Linked DNA regions of Homo sapiens. The protein of the gene in region 1 purifies or fractionates together with the protein of each later gene. This does not show direct contact. Each region holds a gene or a part of one and is shown on either strand. Other genes may lie near its edges.

Region 1 (8,101 bases):
TCCTCAGGGGATACTTTCCAAGCCCTCAGTGGATACCTGAAACCACAGATTGTACCAAATCCTGTATATACTATGCACAAATTTTTCTTTTCTTCTTTACAATTTCATGGACATATTAATTTTACTATAGATCTTAGTAACCTTAGCATAGGAATTTTTTTATTATTAAGTAAAAAACCTTCACCTTTACATGGAAAGGAAGACCTTATGGCCTCTCTTTGGTCTTTCCTTGACATATCCAAATTCCCAGCATTACTACTCTTGTGCTTTGGAGACATAATTAAGTAAAATAAGTTACTTCAATGCAAGCACTGTGATACTGTAAGTCAATCTGATAACCAAGATGTGACTCTGGGTCTGTATACTATGGATAACATCTACAGCGTGGATACACTGGACAAAGGAATGATATATGTGCCAGGCAGAACACAGCAGGACTGTGCAAGATTTCATCATGCTACTCAGAATAAATTTAAAATTTATGAATGGTTTATTTCTAGAATTTTCCATTTAATATTTTTGGAACCTGGTTGACCATTGGTAACTGAAACCGCAGGAATCAACGCCACAAATAAAAGGCGTCTACTCTGCCAGCTTTATCTTATTTTCATTAAGCAGGTTTTTTAGTTTCAGACATGGGTTTTTAAACAAAACTATTTGTGCACAAACTTCCCATATTACCCCAGTTTTTGATCTGCATGTCCTGGTGGCAGCAGAATATCTACATAGATGTTAATTAGGGAGTTATTGTGTTGTATGAAGGGGGTCTCTGGAACTTGGCCTGAAGCAATATTCTTTGTAGGGTCCATTATTTTTATTTATATTGTTTGTTTTTGGGGGTGACAAGAGTAGCTAATGAAAATGATGGGTGGTGGTAAAAAGCAATGGGCTAAGGCACTCAGTAATTTACCCACTGTATTGTGTTTTGTTCTCTTTTGTGCTTTTTTTGATGTTAACTGTTTACTTCTAAGCAAATAACACAACTATCCTCTATGATAGTTTTTCTATTTCCATTTGTACAATTCTTTCAAGAAAACATCTTGAATGCCTTGAAGTTCAACATAAATCCTTATGAAAAACATACTCATCCCACTATAAACATCCTTGTACTTGCTGTTTCCCCTTCATATTTCTGAAACTGGTATCACTGTTCTTATAGTTTCACAAATGGCATCTGTCATCACTGACCCATCTCCTTTATTCACTCTGGTCTGCTTTTTTTCTCTCTTTGTTGGATCCCTATGGTCACATTTCATAAGAAAATAATTTGTATTTTCATGGAGTACCTGAACTAAGTATTCCAGACCAGGAGGGCAGTTTGCCATAGGAGTTGGCCCTGGCATCCATGTTATTGGAACAGACTGATTTGGCATAGGATATTTGCCAGGCTGATACCGGACAGGATGGATACCACCAACTGGCTGGTACAAAGGGAAGGTACTGGGTTGCTGTGGACTGTAGTATCCCATAGGCAAGCCTCCTGGGTAGCCAGTAGGTGGAGGGACAGCTGTTCCAGGGGGTCCTGTGTTCAAAAGAAATCAAAGTGTTATATATTATTAACACTAAAGTTAGCATAACTTTTTACATGCGATGAAATAGATCACACGACATCCACTTAAATATAACAACTTGTTCCATTTTTGATTCACACTTTATGCAGATCATGGTTGCATATGACCCAACGATGTATTAGGGAGACTTATTTACATATTAATTCATTTAATCCTCTTAAAGCTTATAAGATAATTATTCCCATTTCAATGGTACAAAAATAAGTTTTGAAACATTAGAAGAAACATGTTAGCTTCTTAATAAATTAGGTTCCTCCTTGGAGATAATAAACTTACCTAATGAGGTTGTAGTGGGATTAATTACTAACGTATTAATTACTAACGTATAATTACTAACATATAATTACTCCTGCAAATTTTTGTTATTATGTCTATTGTTATTGTTTGTGGTTACATAAATAATGTCTACTTCATTTCAAAGGAGTGCTTTTAATGAATATTTTAGGTTGCCTTGACCCAATCGCTTGTACATATCTTCATCATCGAGTTCTCAGACTGGTCCCCAATCCTGACCTCTTTTAGATTCAATTTCTTAAAGTTATTTTCTTAGTAGTTATGCTGCTATAACAAAATAAGCACAAACTGAGTGGCTTAAACAACAAGCATTTCTTTCTTATAGTTCTGGAGGCTGGGAAGTTCAAAGATAAATGTTAGCATGGTCAAACCTGGTGAGAGCCTTTCCTGGTTTGCAGATGTTCACCTTCTTGCTATATGCTCACAGAGTGAAGGGGGAGAGAGAGAGACAGAAAGACAGAATCCCTCTCATGTCTCCTCTTATAGGGTATGAGTGCCATCATGAGGGCTCCACTCTTTTGATTTAATTTTCTCTGAAAGGCCCCACTTCCAAGTAACATCACATTGGGAAATGGGACTTCAATATGTGAATTTGGGAGGGATATAAACATTCAGCCCACAGCACTTATCCCTCTATCATTTCTCCCCATTCCACCTTCAATCAGAGATCTGATGAATTATCTTTGTCATTATAAGTCCATCAAGGAACCTAGATTTCCTTAAATGGATACAAGATTTTATCATGCTTTAAGAGCACAGTCTACATATTCAATGCAATTCCCATCAAAATACTATCACCGTTCTTCACAGAACTAGAAAAAACAATCCTAAAATTCATATGCAACCAAAAAAGAGCCTGCATAGCCAAAGCAAAACTAAGTAAGTGAAAAGAACAAATCTGGAGGCATCACATTACTTGATTTCAAATGATACTATAAGGACATAGTCACCAAAACAAGATGGTACTGGTATAAAAATAGGCACATAGACCAATGGAACAGAATAGGGAACCCAAAAATAAACCCAAATACAGCCAACTGATCTTTGACAAAGCAAACAAAACACAAAGTGGGGAAAGGACACCCTATTCAACAAATGGTACTGGGATAATTGGCTAGCCACATGTATGAGAATGAAACTGGATGCTCATCTCTCACCTTATATAAAAATCAACGCAAGATGGATCAAGCACTTAAATCTAAGACCTGAAACTATAAAAATTCTAGAAGATAATATCAGAAAAACCCTTCTAGATATTGGCTTAGGCAAAGACTTCATGACCAAAAACCCAAAAGCAAATGCAACAAAAGCAATGATAAGTAGGTGGGACTTAATTAAACTAAAGAGCTTTTGCACAGCAAAAACAACAGTCAGCAGAGTAAACAGACAACCCAAACACAATCTATACATCTGACAAAGGACTAATATCCAGAATCTGTAACGAACTCAAACAAATTAGCAAGAAAATACAAACAATCCCATCAAAAAGTGGGATAAGGACATGAATAGACAATTCTCAAAAGAAGATACACAAATGGCCAACAATTGTATGAAAAAATACTCAGCATCACTAATGATCAGGGAAATGTAAATCAAAACCACAATGTAATAACCCCTTATTCCTGCAAGAATGGCCATAATCAAAAACTCAAAAAATAACAGATGTTGACATGTACGGAGAACAGGGAACACTTCTACACTGCTGGTGGGAATGTAAACTAGTATAGCCACTATGGAAAACAGTGTGGAGATTCCTTAAAGAACTAAAAGTAGAACTACCATTTGATCCAGCAATCCCACTACTGGGGTATTTATCCAGGGGAAAAGAAGTCAAAAAAAGATACTTGCATATGCATGTTTATAGCAGCGCAATTCACTGCTATAATACGGAACTAGCCCAAATGCCCATCAATCTACGAGTGGATAAAGAAAAATGTGGGATTACATATATATATGATGGAATACTACTCAGCCATAAAAAGGAATGAATTAATGGCATTCACAGCAACCTGGATGCGATTGGAGACTATTATTCTAAGGAAAGTAATTCAGGAATGGAAAACCAAATATTGTATGTTCTCACACGTAAGTGGGAGCTAAGCTATGAGGATGCAAAGGCATAGAAATGATACAATGGAATGGACTTTGGGGGCTCAGGGGTAATGATGGGAAGGGGGTGAGGGATAAAAGGCTACAAATTGGGTTCAGTGTATACTGCTTGGGTGGTGGGTGCACTAGAATCTCACAAAATATCACCACTAAAGAACTTACTCATATAACCAAATACCACCTGTTCCCCAAAATCCTATGGAAATAAAATATTTTTTAAAAAGAGTACTCATAAAAATGAATAAGCACACAACAGCTAATGTTTGACTTTAGGAATTTTTTTATCAAGGTCTCTTAAGATAAGCAGTGGTAACTTTGCATTTCACTATGTTTTTTTAAAGTCAAAGAATTGCCAACAATAAGTATGAGAATGCCATTACTGCATATCTATCTAGGTCTGGTTACCAGGAATTTTTTGAATAACTTTGATCATTACTAATTTATTTTTGTTTCACTTTCCAAGTTTTTAAGATTAATTAATTAAAATTTATAAATAACTGGGTCTTGGTTGTCTACCCAGAAATATGCAACAGACCCTAACTTATTGCTAAGGTCTTGTAGCTCTAACTGAAATCCTGTGAGTAGTAGAGCCACAAGCAGCCCACAAGTGATGTTGTCTGAACTGTCAGGAAGGCCAGGCTCAGATAAAGAAAGGTTTTTCTCCTTTAAGAGAGAATTTAAGGAATAATGTCCTGTGGTTGAAAACAAAATAAGTTATGTAAGTCAAGATATTTTATGTTAAGATTTCAGTATAGTCGTCCCTTGATATTCATAAAGGATTGGTTCCAGGACTCCCTCAAATACCAAAACCTACAAATGCTTAAGTCCCTTATATAAAATGGTGTAGTATTTACATGTAACCTACTCACAGCCTCCCATATACTTTAAATGATGTCTAGATTACTTACAATAGCTAACACAATGTAAATGCTAATATAAATTGTTTTTGTGTTATTTTTATTGTATAATTTTTATTGTCATTTTTAATTGTGCTTTTAAAATATTTTTAATCCACACTTTTTTGAATCCATGGATGAAGAATTCACAAATATAGGGGTCCAACTGTGGATCTATTTTAGTTTAAATTAAATAAAAACAACTTTTTATGAGCAGGGAATACCAGCTAAGACTTGAACTGTAAAATCTGAAGCCTTAGTGACAAGACATGAAGGCAATTTTTAAAAATGGAACTAGATTTTTCAGATTTTCAAAGGCAGATGTTTAAATTTAGAGAAAAAAATCACCTCAACATATTGTTTCTTAAATTGTGGCTCAATATACCAAGTCCTTCAAGATAATCTGGAGTTCTTAGTAAAATTCCAGATTCTGAGCCTCATTCCAATCTATTGCAACAGGATCTCTATGGCAAAACTTGAGATTAACAAAACATTTTATTTCATTGATCCTTTTTTAAAATGTACAATGTAGTGGTTTTAAGTATATTCTCAAAGTTGTGCAACCATCACTGCTACCTAAACCCAGAATTTTCATCATACCAGAAAGAACACCCATACCCATTAGCAGCAATTTCCATCTCCTCTTCCCCACAGTCCCTGAAAACCACTACTATCTGTGGATTTGCCTAATCTACACTTTTCATGTAAATGAAAACATACAATAGGCCTTTATGTCTGTTTTTTTTTTTACACTTGGCATGTTTTCAAGGTTCATCCATGTTGTAGCACATATAAGTACTTAATTCCATTTTATGGCTGAGTAGTATTCTATTGTGTGGATATATCACATTTTAGGTATTGTTTAATCAGTCAATGGACATTTAGGTTGCTTTCACTCTGGGCTATTATAAATAACACTGCTGTGATCCTCCATGTACAAGTTTTAGTGTGGACATGTTTTCAGTTCTCTAGCTATGAGTGAAATTAGCTGAAATATTTAGTAACTCCATTATTAACTGCCAAACTGTTTTCCAAAGTGGCTTTACAATTTCATGTCCACTTGCAAATATGAGAGTTCTACTTTCTCCACATCCTCCACCAATACTTGTTATTGTCTGTTTTTATTTTAGTCATCTTAGTGGGTATGAAGTTGTATCTTATTGTGATTTTTATTTGCATTTTTCTGATTACTAATGATGTTCAGCATCTTTTCATGTGCTTATTGGCCATTTGTATATCTCCTTTGGAGAACTATCTATTAAATCTTTTGCCTACTTTAAAACTGAATCATTTGTCTTTTTATTGTTGCATTATAAATGTTCTTTATATATTCAAGATAAAAGTCTCTTGCCAGATAGTTTGCAAGTGTTTTCTCTCATTGTGTAGGTTGTCTTTTCTCTTTGATAGTGTCCTTAGATATACAAAACTTTTTAATTGTTATGAAGTCCAATTTATTTTTTGTTGGTTGTTTGTGCTTTAGAGTGTCATATCATATCTAAGAAACTATTGCCTAATCCAAGGACATAAATACTTACATCTATATCTTGTAAAAGTTTTATAGTTTTCACTCTTAGACATAGGTCTTTCAAACACATAGATCTTTGATTCATTTAGAGTTTTTGTGTTTAGGGTGAGACAGTTTCAAATCATTCTTTTGTATGTTGATATTCATTTGTCTCAGATCCTTTGTTGAAAAGAGTATTCTTTCCCTATTGAATTATTTTGACATGCTTGTAAAAAATCAGTTGGCTACAGATGTTTGGGTTTATTTCTTAGACTCTCAATTCTATCTCATTGGTCTATATGTCTATCTTTATGCTAGTACTGTGGTATTGACTTCTGTAGCTTTATAGTAAATTGGAAATTGGGAATTGTGAGTCCTCCAATTTTTTTTCAAGATTGTTTAGGCTATTCTGAATCCTTTACATTTCCATATGTATTTGAGGAATAGCCTGTCAATTTAAAAATTCCACTGTGATAAGAATTGTGTTGAATCTGTAGATCAATTTAAGGAGCATTTCCATTTAACAATATTTACTTTTCAAATCTGTAAAATGCCTTTCCACTTACGTAGTCTTCTTTAATTTCTTTCAACGTTTTATAGTTTTCAATATGAAAGATATTTTACTCCTTTTATTAAAGTTACTTCTGGGTATGTTATTTTTAATGTTATTGTATGTGGAATTATAATTTTAATTTCTTTTTACATTTTTCATTGTTAATATATAGAAATACTTTTGGATTTCTGTATTATGATCTTATATCCTAACACACTGCTGAACTTGTTTATTGTGCTGTTTGTGGGTATATATGGGTTTTTTTGTTTTGTTTTTTTTTGTTTTTTGGGTTTTTTTTTTTTTAGACAGGGTCTCAGTCTGTCACCCAGGCTGAAGTGCAGTAGTATGATCATAGTTCACTGCAGTCTCAAATCCCTGGACTCAATTGATCCTTCTACCCTAGCCTCCAGGTAACTGGGACTACAGGAGTACAGGAGTGTACCACTGCACCCAGCTTAGACTTTTTACATATATAGGCTCATGTCTTCTGCAAATGGAGATGGTTTTGTTTCTTTCTTTCAATCTGGATGAATTTTCTTTCTTTTTCTTGACTAATTGCTCTGGCTAGAACTTCCAGTACAATGCTGAATAGAAGTGGCAAGAAAGATACCCTGTCTCATTCTTGATCTTAGATGAAATGAACGTTTTCAGTCTTTACTCCTAAACATAATGTTTGGTGTGAGTTTTTCATAGGTACTCTTTTATCAGATTGAGGGAGTTCCTCCTATTTCTAGTTTCTTAAGTGTTTTTATCATGGAGGATGTTGTATTTTGTCAAGTGTGATTTCTGTGCTTACTGATGTGGTCATGTGGTGTTTGTACTATATTTTATTAATATAGTACATACATTGATGTGTTTTAATATGATATTTAATGTGATAAACCAATCTTTTATCCATGGGATAAATCCCACTTGGTCATGGTGTTTAATCCTTTTTTATGTTCCTAAATCTGGTTTGCTAGTAATTTGTTGAGAAAGTCCGATTCTATATTTATTAGGGATATGATCTTTAGTTTTCTTTTCTTGTAACATCTATGTCAGATTTTGCTAATTGGGTAATACTGGCCTCTAGAATTAGCTAGGAAGAATTCATTCTTCTTTCATTTCTATGGAAGACATTGTAAATGACTGGTATTAAAACCTTCATGCAGCATTTAGTAAAATTTCCTTTTTT
Region 2 (7,915 bases), on another chromosome or scaffold:
AGAAGGAAGGACCCGTGCGGGTTCGGGTGGGCCGTCTCCGCCTGGGTGGGGTGGCGGCGGGGGGTCTCTGATCTCCCTTGGTCCACACAGACCCCGCCGGGGGGTTCGCGGAAAATGGAGGAGGCGCCGCTTGGAAAGCGGGTCCCGCAGGGGCCTGTTGAGCTGAGGGAAGAGAAGGTTCGGGCCAGGCGAGATCCTGGGTGGAGGCGGCACCCCCTGCTGGCCTGGGATCAGAGGGATTCGGAGAGAAGAAAAAGCGGATGGACCAAGGCTGTCATTCAACACACATTCACCGAAGGCTCAGCATGTGTGGGGCACTACTGTTCCTGAAAATTCAGCAGACGAAAAAGACTTGTCTTTGCCCTGTCCTCAAGGAGTTTCCATTTTAATAGGGGCCAAATGAGGAAAGTCCAGAGAAGATGGGAAGATTGTGCTTCGAAGAAAAACAAGCAGAGTATTGTTCTGGAGCTGACACGGGGGTAGAGGTGGCAGTCAAGGAAAGCTGCTCTGAGCAGGTGACATCCAAGCAGAAATCCAACTGAATCCCTCCTTGTAGGAAAAGGTGACATGATAGGAAGGTCAAAAAGAAGGTCAGGGCCGGGCGCGGTGGCTCACGCCTGTAATCCTAGCACTTTGGGAGGCGGAGGCAGGCAGATCACGAGGTCAGGAGTTCGAGACCACCCTGGCCCGCATGGTGAAACCCGGTCTCTAATAAAAATACAAAAATTAGCCGGGCATGGTGGCAGGCGCCTGTAATCCCAGGTACTCGGGAGGCTGAGGCAGGAGACTCGCTTGAACCCGGGAGGCGGAGGTTGCAGTGAGCCGAGATCGCGCCACTGCACTCCAGCCTGGGTGACAGAGTGAGACTCTGTCTCAAAAAAAAAAAAAAAAAAAGGGCCAGGCTGGGCGCGGTGGCTCACACCTGTAATCCCAGCACTTTGGGAGGCTGAGCAGATCACTTGAGGTCAGGAGTTCGAGACCAGCCTGGCCAAGGTGAAACCCCGTCTCTATTAAAAATACAAAAATTAGCCGAGCGTGGTGGTGTGCGCCTGTAATCCCAGCTACTTGGGAGGCTACGGGAGAATCTCTTGAACACAGGAGATGGAGATTGCAATGAGCCGAGATCACACCACTGCACTCCTGCCTGGGTGACAGAGCGAGACTGTCTCAAAAAAACAAAACAAACAAAAAAAAAGAAGGCCAGTCTGACGTATTCACTCACACCTGCATTTGGTGGCACTGAAGCTTCAGATTTGAGCTAAGGCTCTGGGCTTGGACTTCCAGAAGCTTCAGGTGTCGTGGGAAAAGAAAGACCCGCAAACCATCTTAGAGTGTGACTGACAGAAGTCACAAAGACTGCGAAAGGGCTCTGCTAGCTCTGCCAGGGGCTACCAGATAATCAGGAAACAGTCACAGAAGAGGTGCCCTTGGAGTTAGGTCTTGAAGGCTGAGTTCACCACACTAAGAAGGGGGAAGGGCATTCCACGTAGATGCTTGAAGGTGAGAAGTAACCTTGTTCTGAAGATAGATAAGATTGGTCCTTCCTGAGGACCATGGGCTCACACCTATAATCTCACCACTTTGGAAGGCTGGGGTGGGAGGATTGCTTGAGGCCAGGAGTTTGAGACCAGCCTGGGCAACAGTGTGAGACTCCATCTCTATTTCAAAAAAATGTTTAAAGATAAAAAAAGATGGATGGCTGCTACTCTGGGCACACTGCCCATGGCCACAGGAGCAGTTAAACACGAACAAAAAAAGATTGGTCCCTCTTGGCGTAGAACAGAAGGTGAGGTATTCCTTCTCTTAGCCACCAGCTACAAGGCAGTGCTCACCCCACTGCCTGCCTTAGCCCTGACACTGGGAGCCTGAGAGGTCCTCTGTAAGTACACCGAGGCCCAGAGAGGATGAACAACTTGCTCAACGTCACATCACAGATCAGCGATAAAGTGTGGGCCTGACTCAGGGCCTGAATGTGGGATAATCCTCCTTCCACCTCTCCAAGCCGCCTCCCCATGACCCCCTAGCCCACAAACTCTAGCGTCTTAGGAAAAGTTGGCTGGGGCTGGGCGTGAGTGTGAGAAGCAGAGTTATTTCAGGCCTCAGGAGGGTTGGGTGCTGCCTTGGAGTCCAGCCAGGGAGTGGGGGCGAGTGAAGGCGGGTGTTGTGGTGTACTGTGGGGGTGCACTGTGCCCGCCTTCTTGTCAGGCAGTAATTACTCAGACTGCTGAGTAACTCAGGCAGGGAGACCCCCACAGACAGATGGAGGTGCCCTCAGCCCAAGCTGAATGGCAGCCCCCAATGTCCTGCACCACGGAGTCTTGGGGAAGCATTCTCACATCTGTTCTTCATGTCCAGTTCTCCTAGGCATCATCCGGCTTCCTAATGGGGGCCAGAGCAGCTCATTAGGCACAGCGGGTGCGGGGCAATGTTACTAGAGGGATGGGACTTTTGCCATCAAACAGGCCCCACCTCTGATGAGGGAAAGGTCCCAAGGGATATGGCGCCTGCTAGGGAGAAGCCATTGCTCAGTTGGAGCCAGTCCTTTCCCCTTGAAACTCCATGCTGCAGTCACAGCTAAGGCTGTCCACAGGCTGGGCAGCAGTGTCCTGAGAGAGGAGGGGCTGAGCTCCCAGAATTCAGATCTTGCACCCTGGGGATCCAGAGAAGCTGGGGGGAGATGGGAAGGTCTAGTCCGGACGCTTATCGAGTTGAGGGGAGTGTTCCTGGGACCCACATTGGTCACTTTTCTGTCTAGAGCTACCTGTCCTAAGAGTGCCGGTGGCCTGGGGGGCACAGCACTGACCCTTGGTGATGGTCCCTCAGCTGCTCACTCCCTGCCTGTCCAGCCATTCCTCCTCTCTGGGCAGCCTCCCAGGCAGGGCCTGTCTCTGGCTGCTTGTTTTTACTTCTCCCTGCACCTTAATTAGGGGTTTCCAAGCAGGGAGGGCCTCTGGGGGAGCCCGAGGACACAGAGCTGACTTAAAGGGCCAGCTGTGATCACAGCACCACCGCAGAGAGAGGAGGAGGATGCCAGGGGGCTGGGTAGACCGTCAGACCTGGAAGACCATTGTTCCACGGGACAGACTGCTGAGGGCCAGTCCTGCAGGTACTTTGCTCTTCCACAGGTCAAAGCCGTCTCACTGGCTGTCTTCTCTTTGGGGTCTCTGGGGCTCTGGCCAGTGATCAGGAGAAAGACCAGCCCTGAGGGGCAGGGCAAAGGTTGGCCAGGGTCCAGAAGGGTTAGACATCACAGTCCTCCACTGCCCACCTTCCCAGGAAAGCACCCTCAGGCTGTGGGCCTTCCCCAGAGGGGCAGTTTCTACAGGGTCTACGCAGTGGATTCTAAAGGTGATAAAGGCTGGGTGCAGTGGCTCGCGCCTGTAATCCCAGCACTTTGGGAGGCCAAAGTGGGAGGATTGCTTGAGTCCAGAGGTTCAAGACCAGCCTGAGCAAAATAGTGAAACCTTATCTCTACTAAAAAAAAAAAAAAAAAAAAAAAAAAAAATTAGCTGAACGTACGCCTGTGGTCCCGGGTACTCAGGGGGCTGAGGCAGGAAGATGAATTGAGCCCAGAAGGTTGAGACTGCTGTGAACCATGATCGCACCACTGCACTCCAGCCTGGGCGACAGACCAAGACCCTGTCTCAAAAAAAATAATTTAAAAAGCTGATAAGGGCGATCCACAAACCTGCACCAAGACTCTCAACTTGGAGCTGGGCTGGTGGTCCCTGAGTTCTGTCCTGCCGGACAGTAGAGTCCCCCTAGGTAGGGAACGTGGCCCCACACGGCGGCCGGGTGACCGACCACTGCTTACCAGGAGGGGAGACTGGCAGGGGGGGCTCAAGGAACATCTGGTGGGTGTCCCCTTCACAAGACTCGGCCTGCAGAGTTCGTGCAGGGAGTTCGCACATAGGAGAGCACCGGTCCGGGAGTGCCAGGCTCGTGCCCGGCCGGGGAGAGGAGTGGGAGACTAAGTCGCAGGGCAAGGGCAACTGCATAGTCGGGGACCTCTAGGGAATCCTGAGTCCCGGCATTCTGGGCTGGGGTGGAGCCCACTACAGCCCCGCCCCTATCTCCTCCTTTATGGCCCCGCCCAGCGGGTATCCCCCGCCCCCGCTGGCCGATCGGCGATCGATCGCAATGTCTGCGCTCTCCGCGTTCTTCCAGCGCTGTCTTTTTAGTACCACATGCGCAGGCAGGTGATGGCGGCGCTGGTCGTATCCGGGGCAGCGGAGCAGGGCGGCCGAGACGGCCCTGGCAGAGGTGGGTGCTGGAACGCTGCGCCCTCCAGACCTCGCATCTCGGGGCGGGGCCCCCAAGTTAGGGACAGGACCAACCCCCTTTAACGGCGGCGGCGCCTTTCTCCGCTAGATCCCGCTGTTAGTCGCCTTGGGCCGCTGTCACCAGCTCGGGGTCGCTGTCAGCCGGAGCCCAGGGGTACCAGTCTTTTGCAGCTTTAGGGCACGACCGAGAGCAGCCCTTAATCCTCCAATCGGAAACTACAGCCTTGTCTTGGCGGGTAGACGGATAAAATGGACTCGACGGGGAGGGAAAGGGCCAGGCCAGATGCAGCGGGCATTTTACGAGTGCGCCCTCAGGGAATGCTTTCAGGGAAGAGGCAAAAGGTTTCATTCGCCAGGCATTAACTGAGCGCCCACCGAATGCCAGGCCTGCGCTGGGTGCAGGTACTAGAATCAGAGATCTCAGTCTACTGGGGGAATGTTAATGTAAACATATCATAGCCACGTGATAAAGGAGGAGGTGCCTACTGGTCCCTGGGACACATTGAAGGGCTAATGTTAGCAGTTCCTTACACGCCAGCGACCACTAGGGACCTGTCAGAGGAGGATCTGTAATGGGCCTAGGAAGCCTAGGCTGATTGTCCAAGGCTTTTGAAACAACTGGCCAAAAACCATAGCAGTGGTAACGTTCAAATCTGATCTCAGGGCCCCAGCCTCCGCTGGACCATCCCCACCGCCGCCCACACAGTGGGTGAAGCCTCATGTCTGGGCGGGTCCCTCCTATCATAGTGTGGGGCCCTAGCAGAAGTTGTGGCACATAGCACAGTCTCAATACATATTCGTTGAATAAGTTAATTTCTTGCCTTTTCATATCCTCAGACTCTGTGGCTCCTGAAGAGATAACGGGGTTGAACTAAGCTTAATTGTCGGGGCAGGGCATAGTGGCTTACACCTTTAGTCTGAGCACTTTGGGAGGCTAAGGAGGATTGTGTGAGCCCAGGAATTCCACACCAGTCTGGGAAACATAGGGGGACCCTGTATGCACAAAAAAATAAAAAATAGCCGTGCGTGGCCGGGCACGGTGGCTTACACCTGTAATCCCAGCACTCTGGGAGGCTGAGGCGGGCGGATTACCTGAGGTCAGGAGTTTGAGACCAGCCTGGCCAACATGGTGGAAACCCTGTCTCTACTAAAAATACAAAAATTAGCCGCGTGTGGTAGCACACGCCTGTAATCCCAGCTACTCGGGAGGCTGAGGCAGGAGAATTGCTTGAGTCCGAGAGGCTGAGGTTGCAGTGAGCCGAGATTGCACCACTGCACTCCAGCCTGGCCAACAGACAGAGTGAGACTCTGTCTCAAAAAAAAAAAAAAAAAAAAAAATTAGCCCTGCGTCTTGGCACATGCCTGTGGTCCTAGCTACTGGGGAGGCTGAGGTGGGAGGATTATCGTTTGAGCCCAGGACGTCGAGGCCGCAGTGGACCATGATTGCACCCCTGCACTCCAGCCTGGGTGATGGAGTGAGACCCTGCCTTAAAAAATAATAAGATGAATTGTTTATTCAGCTTATTATTTTTTATCCTACTTAGGAGTAGGATGAGACCAGAGTAAGAGTTGCAGTTTGCTAAGGGCTACGGTTTCCCCTTTACTCCAGGAGTTGTAATTATGTGTATACCTGTCTTTTCCCCCACTAGACTGCTGGTCTCTAAGGGACAAGGTCACTTTTCTGTCCTTACTGGTACGTCCACCACCCTGACTCAAGTGTTCTTTCCATCCTTCCTGGTTTAAGAGTAAGGAGGAGCAATGGGACAGCTAAGTCAGTTAAATGTATGATGTTTATTTCCCTTTTAAATGAGGAGAGGTAAGCGTGAAAGAACGAACAGTGTGGCCACAGTCAGTGGGGTTCTGAGTCAGGAGGGCAGTCTTTTAAGTTAGTATTCATGTTTAACGGTTTGCTTATAGACCTCATATCTAGAAGCTCAAAACTTCAAGGTGTCCTCAGGAGGTGGGAGAGGGGGGACATTCTCCCAGGCTGGCTGGGCTGGCTAGACTGACTCTTAGGTTTTCCGCAGGGCTGTTCTCTATCAGGGAGCAGTATATGGACTCAGACTCATTCTTTGCCCCTTAGCCCCTGGTGTCACCTCTGTTCTCCTGAGGAAGAAGGTGAGCCATATTCTATTCATGGGCTCAAGTCTTCGATTCCCAGTGATTTCACAACATGGAAATTATACCGGTTACCTTCTGGCTTAATGAATTGTCTCTACCTTCAGGATGAATTCAGTGAGAACGAAAGCTGGGCCAACCCCCTTGGTGTCTGGATCTGGCCCTTAAACTTGGTGGAGTTAACAGCTTAGCTGGGTCTTGTTACCAAACTCAACTTGGGTCTTCCCATCCACACAAAGCAAAAGCCAAACACTGACATGGAGATTTGCAGGGAGAGAACAAGCATTTATTGTAAGGCACCAAGCAGGGAGACTGGGCAGCTAAAGCTTAAGACCTAAACTTCCTGATGGCTTACAAGCAAAGGGTTTTTATTTTATTTATTTATTTATTTTTGAGATGGTGTCTCGCTCTGTTGCCCAGGCTGGAGTGCAGCGGCGTGATCTCGGCTCACTGCAAGCTCCGCCTCCCGGGTTCACCCCATTCTCCTGCCTTAGCTGGGACTACAGGTGCCTGCCACCAGGCCCGGCTAATTTTTTGTATTTTTAGTAGAGAGTAGTATTTCCCCGTGTTAGCCAGGATGGTCTCGATCTCCTGATCTCGTGATCCGCCCGCCTCAGCCTCCCAAAGTGCTGGGATTACAGGCGTGAGCCACTGCGCCCGGCTGCAGAGGGTTTTTAAAGGCTGGGCTTCTGGGGATCTTTAAAGTGAATTAAGGGCTGGGGAATTTCTGGAACTTTCTTACCTATTTTCTGGCTTCAGTCTGTCTGAGGTCTTACATGACAGCAATTAGTTGGCATTTTTCACCTGGTGGGGGGGTGGGTGTCCTGGTTTCTGAAAAACAACTTAGGGATATATGTCAAGGTGTTATGTGTAGTTTCTATAGGGAACCAGGCATCTCGTGACTCTGACTTGGGTGACTGTTGTTTATTATCTTCTTGTTTAGCAAGTTATTTAATTCCCTAATTGCTGGTTGTAGGGCTAGCTAAGATGCCTGGGATTTTTCTTGAGATGACTCAAAATTTTTATTTCTATGCTTGAGCGGGGGCACCGGCAGGCCCTGAAAAGGGATCCCTATTCCATCTCAATCTGGCTTCAGCCAAAGACAGACACCAACTCAGGCCTTATATCCATTCTAGGTCGGGCCCCTCGGGGCCGCGTGGCCAATCAGATCCCCCCTGAGATCCTGAAGAACCCTCAGCTGCAGGCAGCAATCCGGGTCCTGCCTTCCAACTACAACTTTGAGATCCCCAAGACCATCTGGAGGATCCAACAAGCCCAGGCCAAGAAGGGTGAGCCTGTGATCATTGAGCTGGGGTTGGGGTGGAGAGGTTGCCTGGCCCAGATGGGACAGTGTCCCCCTTGCAGCCCCTTCCTAGCCCTCCACCTCTCATGTCTCTGCTCGTCTTGCAGTGGCCTTGCAAATGCCGGAAGGCCTCCTCCTCTTTGCCTGTACCATTGTGGATATCTTGGAAAGGTGAGGCTTGGGGCACTGGAGAGGAGGGTGAGCCAGGCTT

What was found.
Region 2: the proteins of PLSCR4 (region 1) and DPH1 purify together in Homo sapiens (affinity purification with mass spectrometry; 2 studies listed by BioGRID and IntAct, with this or other methods). This does not show direct contact.

Annotation. Positions count from the first base shown.
Region 1 is NC_000003.12:146,205,240-146,213,340, forward strand, and holds part of PLSCR4 (phospholipid scramblase 4), read right to left. Parts: intron 1,523-8,101; coding exon 1,287-1,522; intron 1-1,286. UniProt on the Homo sapiens protein: Catalyzes metal ion-induced ATP-independent rapid bidirectional and non-specific movement of phospholipids (lipid scrambling or lipid flip-flop) between the inner and outer leaflet of the plasma membrane and participates in the redistribution of phospholipids between membrane leaflets.
Region 2 is NC_000017.11:2,025,968-2,033,882, forward strand, and holds the start of DPH1 (2-(3-amino-3-carboxypropyl)histidine synthase subunit 1), read left to right. Parts: upstream 1-4,185; 5' UTR 4,186-4,187; coding exon of another isoform or gene 4,188-4,202; coding exon 4,203-4,263; intron 4,264-7,537; coding exon 7,538-7,690; intron 7,691-7,811; coding exon 7,812-7,875; intron 7,876-7,915. UniProt on the Homo sapiens protein: Catalyzes the first step of diphthamide biosynthesis, a post-translational modification of histidine which occurs in elongation factor 2.